Linked DNA regions of Homo sapiens. The protein of the gene in region 2 interacts with the protein of the main gene of each other region in a biochemical or structural test. Each region holds a gene or a part of one and is shown on either strand. Other genes may lie near its edges.

What was found.
Region 1: the proteins of PIN1 (region 2) and CHAMP1 form a complex in vitro, tested with the Homo sapiens proteins (one study listed by BioGRID).
Region 3: the proteins of PIN1 (region 2) and PLK1 form a complex in vitro, tested with the Homo sapiens proteins (3 studies listed by BioGRID, with this or other methods).

What each region holds. Positions count from the first base shown.
Region 1 is NC_000013.11:114,312,900-114,316,647, reverse strand, and holds the start of CHAMP1 (chromosome alignment-maintaining phosphoprotein 1), read right to left. Parts: upstream 2,146-3,748; 5' UTR 2,005-2,145; intron 1-2,004. UniProt on the Homo sapiens protein: Required for proper alignment of chromosomes at metaphase and their accurate segregation during mitosis. Involved in the maintenance of spindle microtubules attachment to the kinetochore during sister chromatid biorientation.
Region 2 is NC_000019.10:9,838,217-9,841,864, forward strand, and holds part of PIN1 (peptidyl-prolyl cis-trans isomerase NIMA-interacting 1), read left to right. Parts: intron 1-219; coding exon 220-432; intron 433-3,648. UniProt on the Homo sapiens protein: Peptidyl-prolyl cis/trans isomerase (PPIase) that binds to and isomerizes specific phosphorylated Ser/Thr-Pro (pSer/Thr-Pro) motifs.
Region 3 is NC_000016.10:23,681,773-23,685,420, reverse strand, and holds part of PLK1 (serine/threonine-protein kinase PLK1), read right to left. Parts: intron 3,358-3,648; coding exon 3,264-3,357; intron 1,552-3,263; coding exon 1,332-1,551; intron 1-1,331. UniProt on the Homo sapiens protein: Serine/threonine-protein kinase that performs several important functions throughout M phase of the cell cycle, including the regulation of centrosome maturation and spindle assembly, the removal of cohesins from chromosome arms, the inactivation of anaphase-promoting complex/cyclosome (APC/C) inhibitors, and the regulation of mitotic exit and cytokinesis.

The DNA.
Region 1 (3,748 bases), on a different chromosome or scaffold from region 2:
TTTATTAAGTAGTCTATAGTTTACACAAGGAGTCATTTTTATTTATTTATTTTTTTTTGAGAGGGAGTCTCGCTCTGTCACCCAGGCTGGAGTGTAATGGCGCAATCTCGGCTCACTGCAATCTCCACCTCCCAGGTTCAAGCGATTCTCCTGCCTCAGCCTCCCCAGTAGCTGGGACTACAGGCGCGCGCCACCACAGGCTCACGCCTGTAATCCCAGCACTTTGGGAGGCCAAGGTGGGCGGATCACCTAAGGTTGAAAGTCAGAGAGCAGCCTAACCAACGTGGAGAAACCTCGTCTCTACTAAAAATACAAAATTAGCCGGGTGTGGTGGCAGGCGCCTGTAATCCCAGCTACTTGGGAGGCTGAGGCAGGAGAATCGCTTAAATCCGAGAGACGGAGGCTGCAGTGGGCCAAGATCGCATAACTGCACTCCAGCCCAGGCAACAAAAGTGAAACTCTGGCTCATTAAAAAACAAAAACAAAAATAAAAACAAAAAACTTGCCATTTAGGCCGGACATGGTGGTTCATGCCTGTAATTTCAGCACTTTGGAAGGCCGAGGCGGGTGGATCACCTGAGGTCAGGAGTTCGAAACCAGCCTGACCAACATGGAGAAACCCTATCTCTACTAAAAATACAAAATTAGCCAGGTGTGGTGGCAAGCGCCTGTAATGCCAGCTACTTGGGAGAATGAGGCAAAAGAATCCCTTGAACCCAGGGGGCGGAGGTTGCAGTGAGCCAAGGTCGGGCCATTGCACTCCAGCCTGGGCAACGAGAGCGAAACTCCCGTCTCAAAAAAAAAAAAAAAAACAAAACTTGCCATTTAATCATTTTTAAAAGCACAATTTAGTTAGTTTAGTACTAAAACGTTGTGCAAACATCACCACTATCCACTTCCAGAACTTCTTCACCACAAACAGAAATTCTGTACCCATGAAACAGTAACTTCCACTCTCCACTTTCAGTGCTGGTAATCTCAATTCTGTGCCTGAGGGGGAATCATACAGTATGTCTTTTTTGTGTCTTATTTCACTCAACATAATGTGTTCAATGTGCTCGTTTATACTGTATAATGTGTTCGTTTATATTGCAGCATGTATCAGAATTTCATTCCTTTCTAAAGATGAACAATGGTCCATTCATTATATGTATATACCACAGCTTGCCTTTCATCCACATGTTGATAGACATCTGGATTTTGAATAATGCTGCGATGAACATTTGTGAACAAGTATCTGAGTCTCTGCTGTCAATTTTTGGGGGTATAAACCTAGAACTGAGGAACGACTACCAATTTCCATAGCTGCTGCACCACCCTACTTTCCCACCAGCAATGCACCCGAGCTTCAATTTCTCCACATCCCCAACACTCATAATTTCCCTTTTTTTTAATAGCCACCCTAACAGGTGTGAGGTGGTATCTCATTGTGGTTTTCATCTGCATTTCCTTAATGGTTAGTGATGTTGAGCATCACTGCACGTGCTTATTGGCCATTTGTCTCTCTTCTCTGGAGAAATATCTATTCAAATTCCTTGCCCATTCTTGAACTGGGTTGCTTTTTGTTGGTCAGTTGCATCTCTTCTTGTATTCTAGACATTAACTCTTTATCAGGTTTACAAATGTCCTCTCCCACTTTGGAGGCTGTATAGCGGATTTTTAAACAGTAATAATGACAGAAGAGGAGGCAGTCTAGAACTAAAACAGAAAGAATGGCTTTCGTCTTGTGCCGCCCTCAACTTCCCAATGGTTTCAAACGCAATGTTTCCAGCCTCGGCAGCGACTGACACCGGGCCTCCCCGCTCCCTGCACAAAGACGCACTCCCGCCCCGGCCTGTGGGGGCGGGCCCTTCCCTCGGGCCGTGTGGGAAGCGAGGCAGCGCAGGCCCCCTTCACTCGGACCCGCGGCTTCCCGGGACCGTCCCCGCCAGGTCGGCGGCCGACACGGGGCTCGGGGATGCAGGCCCCAACCACGCCCCTCCCCCGCTCGCTCTCGCTCCTCACCGGTCCGGCCGCGGGCGGCGTCCAGTGGGCGATGGACCGCGCGGAGGGCCCGGCTCGCGGTCGCGGGCGGCTCCGCGAGGCCCTGCAGCGCAGCGGCCTCCCGAATGGCGACTGGATGCAGGAGCCGGGATCCGGGTGCGCGAGCGTGCGCGCTCCCGCGGGACGGGCGGGGGCTGACGGGAAGCAAGTTTGGCGCCGCGCGCCCTCCCGCGCGGGCCAATCAGATCGCCGATCGCGTGGCGCGGCTGTGCCAAAAGTGCGTGGGCAAAACTAGCGGCTCGCGCGGGCCTTCGGAAGGGCTGCGTGCCCGCCCCGCCCCGGAAGTGCCGCACGTGCCCACTCCGCCTCCGCTTCCCGCGCGCGCCCGGGCGCGGCTCCGGGAGGGTTCCGCCGCGTCTGGCCTGTGGCCTCCGGCCAGGCCCTTGGAACGGCCCCGGCCTGCCGCCGCCGTGCGGATATCTCTTCCTTTTCTTGCTGTTTTGATTGTTGTGTGAATGAATTTATTAGGAAAAAAAGAGCTAGACCTGCCCCATACATTCTCAGGGATATTACTGGCATAATACCTATGACAAAAGTACAAGACAAAGTTGTTGGATGACAGTAAATATTCCTTTTCTCATCACCCCGCCTCCACTGAAAGTCCCGATTCCCAGAAGTTATCTTCTTCGTTTTTTGTTTTCAGTTTTATGAATGTTACCACCACAATTCTAATTAAAATGCATGCACCTCTAATGCTGATGCCATCAGTCTGTATGCTTTGAAAGACTGTAAAATTAGCTCACACTGCTCTCTACCTTTGTACCCTTCTGAAGTTTTGCTTGTTGTGAATTTCATTTTTGTTTTTGTGGTGAAAATGAACTATAGAATGGCCGGGCGCGGTGGCTCACGCTTGTAATCCCAGCACTTTGAGAGGCCTAGGCAGGTGAATCATCTGAGGTCAGGAGTTCGAGACCAGCCTGTCCAACCTGGTGAAACCTTGTCTCTGCTAAAAATACAATATTAGCCAGGCGTGGTGGCGGGCGCGTGTAACCCCAGCTACTAGGGAGGCTGAGGCAGGAGAATCCCATAGAACCGGGGAGGCGGAGGTTACAGCGAGATCGCGCCACTGCACTCCAGCCTGGGGGAGAGAGTGAGACTCTGTCTCAAAAAAATAAAAATAAAATCCATAGAATTTACCGTCTTAACTATCTTTACGTGTACAGCTCAGTGGTGGTAAGTATATTCATAACACCACCATCCATCTCTGTACCTCTTTCATCTTGAAAAACAAACTATGCATTACATGTTAACTCTCGGTTCCCCTCTACCTTCTACTTTCTGGCAGTCACCATCTTACTTCCTGTGTCTCTGAGTCTGACTACTCATAAGAGTGGAATCATACAGTATTTGTCTTGTGACTGACTTATTTTACTTAGCAGAACATCCTCAAGGTTCATCCATGTTGTAGCACATTGTGGAATTTCCTTCCTTTTTAACACTGAATACTATCCCATTGTATGGATATGCCACATTTTGCTTATCCACTCACCTGTTGATGGACACTTGGCTTGCTTCCCTATTCAAGATATTGTGAATAATGCTTTGACATTTTCAAAGAACCAATTTTTGGTTTCATTGATTTTCTCTATCGTTTTCTATTTTCTATTTCATTTATCTTGGCTTTAATCTTTATTATTTCCTTCTTTTTGCCAGCTTTGGATTTAGTTTTTCTTTTTATAGTTCATTAAGTTGTAAAGTTAGGTTG
Region 2 (3,648 bases):
CTGCTCTCACCTAGAATGTTAGCTCTCTAAGGGCAGGGACTGTATCCTGCCACATTGGCCCACGTCTGGAGAGCCTGTGGCACATGGTGGATACACCATGGATTTGTTGAATGAAGGCGCCCCCTGCAAGCCAGGCCCTCACCCTGGCTTCTGGCTGTGGGCCCAGGGGTGTCCTGGGAGCACAACCCTAGCTGAATTCCTGCCTGCCCTCCCCTCCAGGCCGAGTGTACTACTTCAACCACATCACTAACGCCAGCCAGTGGGAGCGGCCCAGCGGCAACAGCAGCAGTGGTGGCAAAAACGGGCAGGGGGAGCCTGCCAGGGTCCGCTGCTCGCACCTGCTGGTGAAGCACAGCCAGTCACGGCGGCCCTCGTCCTGGCGGCAGGAGAAGATCACCCGGACCAAGGAGGAGGCCCTGGAGCTGATCAACGGTGAGCAGGGCGAGGGCAGGGGCTTGGGAGGGGGTCTTCTCCCAGGTGAGCCTTTGTAGAAGTCACATCAGACCCTTCACCCCAGCTTGCTCAGCTGCCAGGCGTGGTGTTGGCCAACACAAAAACGCCAGTGCATGACCTGACCCTGACCTTCACAGCAGCCATTCTCTTTCTTTTCCATCTGGCATTTGAGGGTGAGCCAGGTAGGGGCAGAGGACCCAGCCTGGGGGCTGGCAGACATGGGTTCAGGTAGTAGCTGTGCCTCTGTGAACTCTGTGACCTTTGGGAGGGGACTCGTGTCACCTCCCCTAGACTCAGCTTTCTCTGTAAAATGGGCATCCTCTAAGGACCATTGTGAAGGTTCAAGGGAATAAGGCAATGGATTTTGCACAGTAGGCCCTCAGTCTGTGGGAAGTGTTGTCAATAGTAATATCATCCACTAGGGGCCTGAGTCATAAACATAGGTGGATCCAGAGAGAGCAGTCAGGAAGGTAGTGAGTGCATGCAGGGTGCGGTGGCTCACGCCTGTAATCCCAGCACTTTGGGAGGCCTTGGAGGGCAGATCACCTGAGGTCAGGAGTTCAAGATTAGCCTGGGCAGTATGGTGAAACTCCATCTCTACTAAAAATACAAAGATTAGCCAGATGTGTTGACGCATGCCTGTAATCCCAGCTACTCGGGAGGCTGAGGCAGGGAGGCAGAGGTTGCAGTGAGCCGAGATCGCACCACTCCACTCCAGCCTGGGCAGCAAAGTGAGGCACCATCTCAAAAAAAAAAAAAAAAAAGAGGTAGTGAGTGCCAGTAGATAGTGAGTTAATTCTGACCTAAGGGAGGAAGCTATTCCCTGCTCTGTTCTGTGTTTCCTCTGCAGTCTGGCACCAAGGTGGCAAACTTTAAAGGCCAGATGGTAAATATTTTAGGTTTTGTGGGCCATGCAGTCTCTATCAGCTCTGCTTTGTAACTGGATAGCACTCATAACTAATATGTAAGCAAGCACATGGTCATGGCTGTGTGCCAAGAAAACTTTACTATTTACAAAATCTGGGAGGATTTGGCCTGCAGGCCATCATTTGCAGAGCCCTGTCTAAAGCTGTCCAGTTTGGCTGCCACTCCCACCCTGTGCGGGAGGATCACTTGAGCCCAGGAGTTTGAGACCAGCTTGGGCAACATAGCAAAACCCCGTCTCTAAAAAAATAAAAAAATTAGCTGGACATGGTGGTGCACGCCTGTAGTGTCAGCTACTTAGAAGACTGAGGTGGGAGGATCCTTTGAGCCCAGGAGGCAGAGGTTGTAATGAGCCGAGATCACACTACCGCACTCCAGCCTGGGTGACAGAGCAAGACCCTGTCTCAAAAATAAATAAGATAATATCAAAAATTGGTTTCTCAATTGCACTGGTCATACTTTAGCTGGTGGCTGCCATCTTTGACAGCGGGAATATAAAACATTTACATTCTTGGCCGGGCGCGGTGGCTCACGTCTGTAATTCCAGCACTTTGGGAGGCCAAGGTGGGTGGATCACGAAGTCAGGAGATCGAGACCATCCTGGCTAACACGGTGAAACCCTGTCTTTACTGAAAATCCAAAAAAATTAGTCTGGCATGGTGGCGGGCACCTGTAGTCCCAGCTACTCGGGAGATAGGCAGGAGAATGGCATGAACCCGGGAGGTGGAGCTTGCAGTGAGCTGAGATCGTGCCACTGCACTCCAGCCTCGGCAACAGAGCGAGACTCCGTCTCAAAAAAACAAAAACAAAAACAAAAAAAAACACTTTTCCATTCTTGCAGTAAGTTGTGTCTGATGCCTTTCTCAGAGTCCCCAAACCTGGGCTGTCCCTACTCCAAACAACCCATCTCTCAACCATGCCCAGACAGCCTGGGTTGCTATGCAGCTCTGCCACGTCCTGGCTATGTGCTCTTGAGCAAGTTACTTAACATCTCTGGGCTTCAATCTTTTTCTCCTTCTTCTTTTGAGACAGGGTCTTGCTCTGTCACCCAGGCTGGAGTGCAGTGTTCATAGCTCACTGCAGCCTCAACCTCCTTGGGATCAGGTGATCCTCCCACCTCAGCCTCCCAAGTAGCTGGGACTGCAGGCTCATAACACCACACCTGGCTGATTTTTGTATTTTTAGTAGAGACAGGACTTCACCATGTTGCCTAGGATGGTCTCAAACTCCTGGCCTCAAGTGATCCTTCCACCTCAGCCTCCCGAAGTGTTGGGATGACAAGCATGAACCACCGCCCCCAGCTGTCAGTCTTTTTCATTTATAAAATTAGTATTAGAATAATAAGACCCACTTCACAGGGTAGTTGTGAGGACTCCTGGCTAATACAGTAAAGCGGGAGTAACAGCTCCTGGCATCGGTAAATGTTCTGTCATTGTTAGTGGTCACTGTCATTGCTGTTGTTGGTTGTGGTAGCACAGGGCCCAGCACAGAGTGTACACTCGGTCAGTATTGGCTGTTGTTTTACTCTCTCATCACTTGGTCCAGTTGGCCTGTAGGATGTTATTACATATGCACACCCCCAACATGGCATCTAGGACAGTAAGTGCCACCCGTTAGTCTTATATGTAAGCATGGCAGAGAGAAGCCGAGTTCTTGCACAGAATCTTGAAGGCTGATTGAAGAGCCAGCCTCCTGACCTCTGAGGGCAGGGACTGGATCTCTCTCTTTCCCCTGTATTCCCATCCTGCCACACAAAGCCTGGCCCAGAGTCAGCCCTCACAGCCTTGTTTCATGAGCCAGTAGGAAGCAAGAAGGATTCCTGGCACAGGACGGGGCAGAAGTAAAGGCCTAGGACTAGGATGTAGCCAGAACTCTGGGGAAGGCTTTGCAGGGAGCTAGGGGGTGATGAGACCCTTCACGGGCAGGTCCCAGCCAGGTTGAGGAGGGTCCTTGTCAGGTGAGGAGGTTTGGTTCTTTCCTGGAGGCAGCAGGACATATGTGGCCATGTGGGACCAGGAGAGGAACCCACAGTGCTCTGCTTTCAGCAGAGATCTGTGAAGCTAGAATGTCAAGGGCCAGGGAAGTGGAAGGCCCAGAACCTTCAGGGGTTCTGGTTGCCCCAGAGCAAGAAGAAGAAGTGGAGGGAGAAGCCAGGAGAGAATTGCAAGATGACCCTTCAGGTCCTCCCAGCTCTAGTGGTCTCTGTTCTGAGGCTTCCGGACCCTATAAGAGTGAGCAGGAGGGTGCAGGCATTTGGGGATGGAGCGGCAT
Region 3 (3,648 bases), on a different chromosome or scaffold from region 2:
TGTAGTCCTAGCTACTCTGGAGGGTAAGGCAGGGGGACTGTTTGAGCCCAGGATGTTGGGGCTGCAGTAAGCTATGAGTGAGCCACTGCATTCCAGCCTGGGTGACAGCAAGTCCTGAGACCTGTCTCAAAAAAAATTCCACTGTAATAATTGCTGCAAGGTATGTAGGAACTCTGGGGAGTTTTTTGTTGTTGTTGCAACTTTTCTGTATAAGCCTAAAATTATTCCAAAATGAAGTTTAAGAAAAACCAATACCTAAAAATTGAAAACTGAAAAATGAACTGAAGTTGTACATCAAATTGGTGATATATCCACAGAGAAAAAAAGTATTTCAAGTGACTTTTTAAAACTATGTATCCTTAGTGAAATCGAGATCATACCACTCCCCTCCAGCCTAGGAGACAGAGCCAGACCCTGTCTCAAAAAAAAAAAAAAAAAAAAAAAAAAAAAAAAAAAAAAAAAAGGCCGGGCCTGGTGGTTCACGCCTGTAATCTCAGCCCTTTGGGAGGCCGAGGCAGGCGGATCACGAGGTCAGGAGATTGAGACCATCCTGGCTAACACAGTGAAACCCCGTCTCTACTAAAAGATACAAAAAAACAGCCGGGCATGGTGGTGGGCGCCTGTAGTCCCAGCTACTCAGGAGGCTGAGGCAGGAGAACGGCGTGAACCCGGGAGGCAGAGCTTGCAGTGAGCCGGGATCACGCCACAAAAAAAAGGAAATTTTTATGTTTTTCAATGAATCATGAAAAAGTGTTAGAAATTTTTTTAAAGGCCAGATGTAGCAGCTCATGCCTGTCATCCCAACACTTTGGTGGAGGTGAAAGGATCGCTTGAGCCCAGGAGTTCCAAGACCAGCCTGGGCAACATGGCAAAACACTGTCTCTACAAAAATTAGAAAAGTCAGCCAGGCATGGTGGTGCATGCCTGACAGTCCCAGCTACTTGGGAGGCTGAGATGGGAGGATCAATTGAGCCCTAGAGTTGAAAGCTGCAGTGAGCTGTGATTGTGCCTCTGCACTCCAACCTGGAAAATAGAGGAGAGACCCTGTCTCCAAAAAATTAAATTAATTAAAGTGATTTGAAAGAATTTTTCAGGCTTGGCATTCAATCCATTTTCTTCTTCTTGGGCATGGTACGTTTATCCAGCCATGGTAAGGTCAGTCTTTCCTGGCAGGGCCGAGAAGCAGATGGGCATTGGAACCACGGATTGAAGGACAGAGGCCTGTCCTACTCCACACCTGAGCTCTCAGGGCCAGGGACTAAGCTGCACACACCCCTACAACCTGGGCTTTCTCTGGGGGGTCTGCTCTCTTACCCAGACCCTTGTTGTACCTTTATTGAGGACTGTGAGGGGCTTCCGGTTGCTGGGGTCCAGGCTGCTGGGAGCAATCGAAAACCTTGGTGGAATGGTCAGGCAGGTGATGGGGAGACGGGCAGGGATATAGCCAGAAGTAAAGAACTCGTCATTAAGCAGCTCGTTAATGGTTGGGCGGGCAGTGGGATCTGTCTGAAGCATCTTCTGGATGAGGGAGGCGGCCACGGGGTTGATGTGCTGGGGCAGAGAGAGGGACAGCCATAAGCAGAATGTGAAGGGGACCTGGAGTACAGTACGGCCTCAAAGGAGCTGCAGGTCCCCAGCCCACATGCAGCCCCCAGTCTCAAATACACCACAGGTCAGTGGTTCACAACTTGGTTCAATGCCAAGTTCTCCACTGTCAGCTTTACTGAGCACCATTGACAGAAGGGTCAATGGACTGTGGCCGAACACCAACTCACTTTCCTAGCACTCACTATGTGCCAGGAAAGCATTCTAAGCACTCCTGTGTTTAGCTCACTTAGCCCTCACCAACTCATCTAAGGGGTGGGGATCTATTATCATCCCTTTTTCACAGAGGAGGAAAGTGAGGCACAGAGAGGGTGAAGGCCTTGTCTAGCTGGCTTGATTCCATGCTGTCTCTGACAGTGAACTGACACTTTGTGATGGATTTACTATGTCTGTCCTTATGGTGACAGGCCTCCTGGCTTCACACAAGGACACTACACTTCAAACTGGCTGTGTGCTAGGCTTCTGCAGGAACCAGCTATTCCTTTAAATGTATTTCTGTTGGTGGTTGTGAAAATGCACACCATGGCCGGGCGCGGTGGCTCACGCCTGTAATCTCAGCACTTAGGGAGTCCGAAGCAGGTGGATCACAAGGTCAGGAGATCGAGACCATCCTGGCTAACACGGTCAAACCCTGTCTCTACCACAAATACAGAAAAAAGAAGCCGGGCATGGTGGCTGGTGCCTGTAGTTCCAGCTACTCAGGAGGCTGAGGCGGGAGAATGCCATGAACCTGGGAGGCAGAGCTTGCAGTGAGCCGAGATTGTACCACTGCATTCCAGCCTGGGCGACAGAGCGAGACTCCATCTCAAAAAAAAAAAAAAAAAAAAAAAGAAAATGCACACAACTATGCCATTAGGAAGCCCTGGGATTCACAGTGATTCATAATTCTGAGAGCACTCACCACATGCAAGGCACTCTGTGAGGTGCTCCAAGGCAGGAACTCCACTTTATATATGGAAACTATGGTTCAGAAGATGCAGGCCAGGCTGGGTATGGTGGCTCACGCCTGTAATCCCAGCACTTTGGGAGGCCAAGGCGGGTGGATCACCTGAGGTCAGGAGTTCGAGACCAGCCTGGCCAACATGGTGAAACCCCGTCTCTACTAAAAATACAAAAAAAAAAAAAAAAAGCCAGGCGAGGTGGTGGGTGCCTGTAATCCCAGCTACTTGGGAGGCTGAGGCAGGAGAATCGCTTGAACCTGGGAGGTGGAGGTTGCAGTGAGTCAAGATCATGCCACTGCACTGGGCAACAAGAGCAAAACTCCACCTCAAATAAAAAAAAAAAAAAAAAAGATGCAGGCCATTTGCCCAATGTGATCTCGCTAAGTGGCAGAATCCATTTGAATTAAGATAAACCATTTCTAAAGATTAAGCACTTTTGCCTCCTACTCCTTCCTACCTCCTTTGTTTTTTGCTTTTTACACAACTTTTGGGTTACCCAATCTCTTGAGAATCTGCCAACTCTCTCCCCCTAGAAAAAATGCTTATGTGCACATACATGTCAAGTTCTGTATGCAATTTCAGACACAGGCCCTCTCAAGCTCTGTGGCTACCTTAGAGGTGGGATAGACCTATTTCTGGTCCTAGGATATTGCTGGGCTCCATAAACAGCTTCTGGGGAAAACAAAATAAATGTAAACTTAAAGCATCATTAGTCACCTTGGGAATACTGTATTCATTCTTCTTGATCCGGAGGTAGGTCTCTTTTAGGCAAGAAGTCTCAAAAGGTGGTTTGCCCACTAACAAGGTATACCTGTAAGCACAAGGTAGGATTTGGCACCAGTCTCCCAGCCACAACCCAGACATGAGAGAAATCATCTCAGGGTCAGAACAAAGGTCAGGCATCCTCTGGACACTCACTCTAACTCTGGGGCCCCTGAAGACAATCCCTAAGTCCACTGAGCAGCCCCAGAAGCCATGACATTGGCTAGAATAAGCCCTCAGCAGAATACACATGGTGAGACCAGGATTCTTAAGGGCCAGTGATTTTTTAGCTATAGCCTGTGGTCATCTAGGACTCTGTGCAAGGGCCTCAGATGCTGCC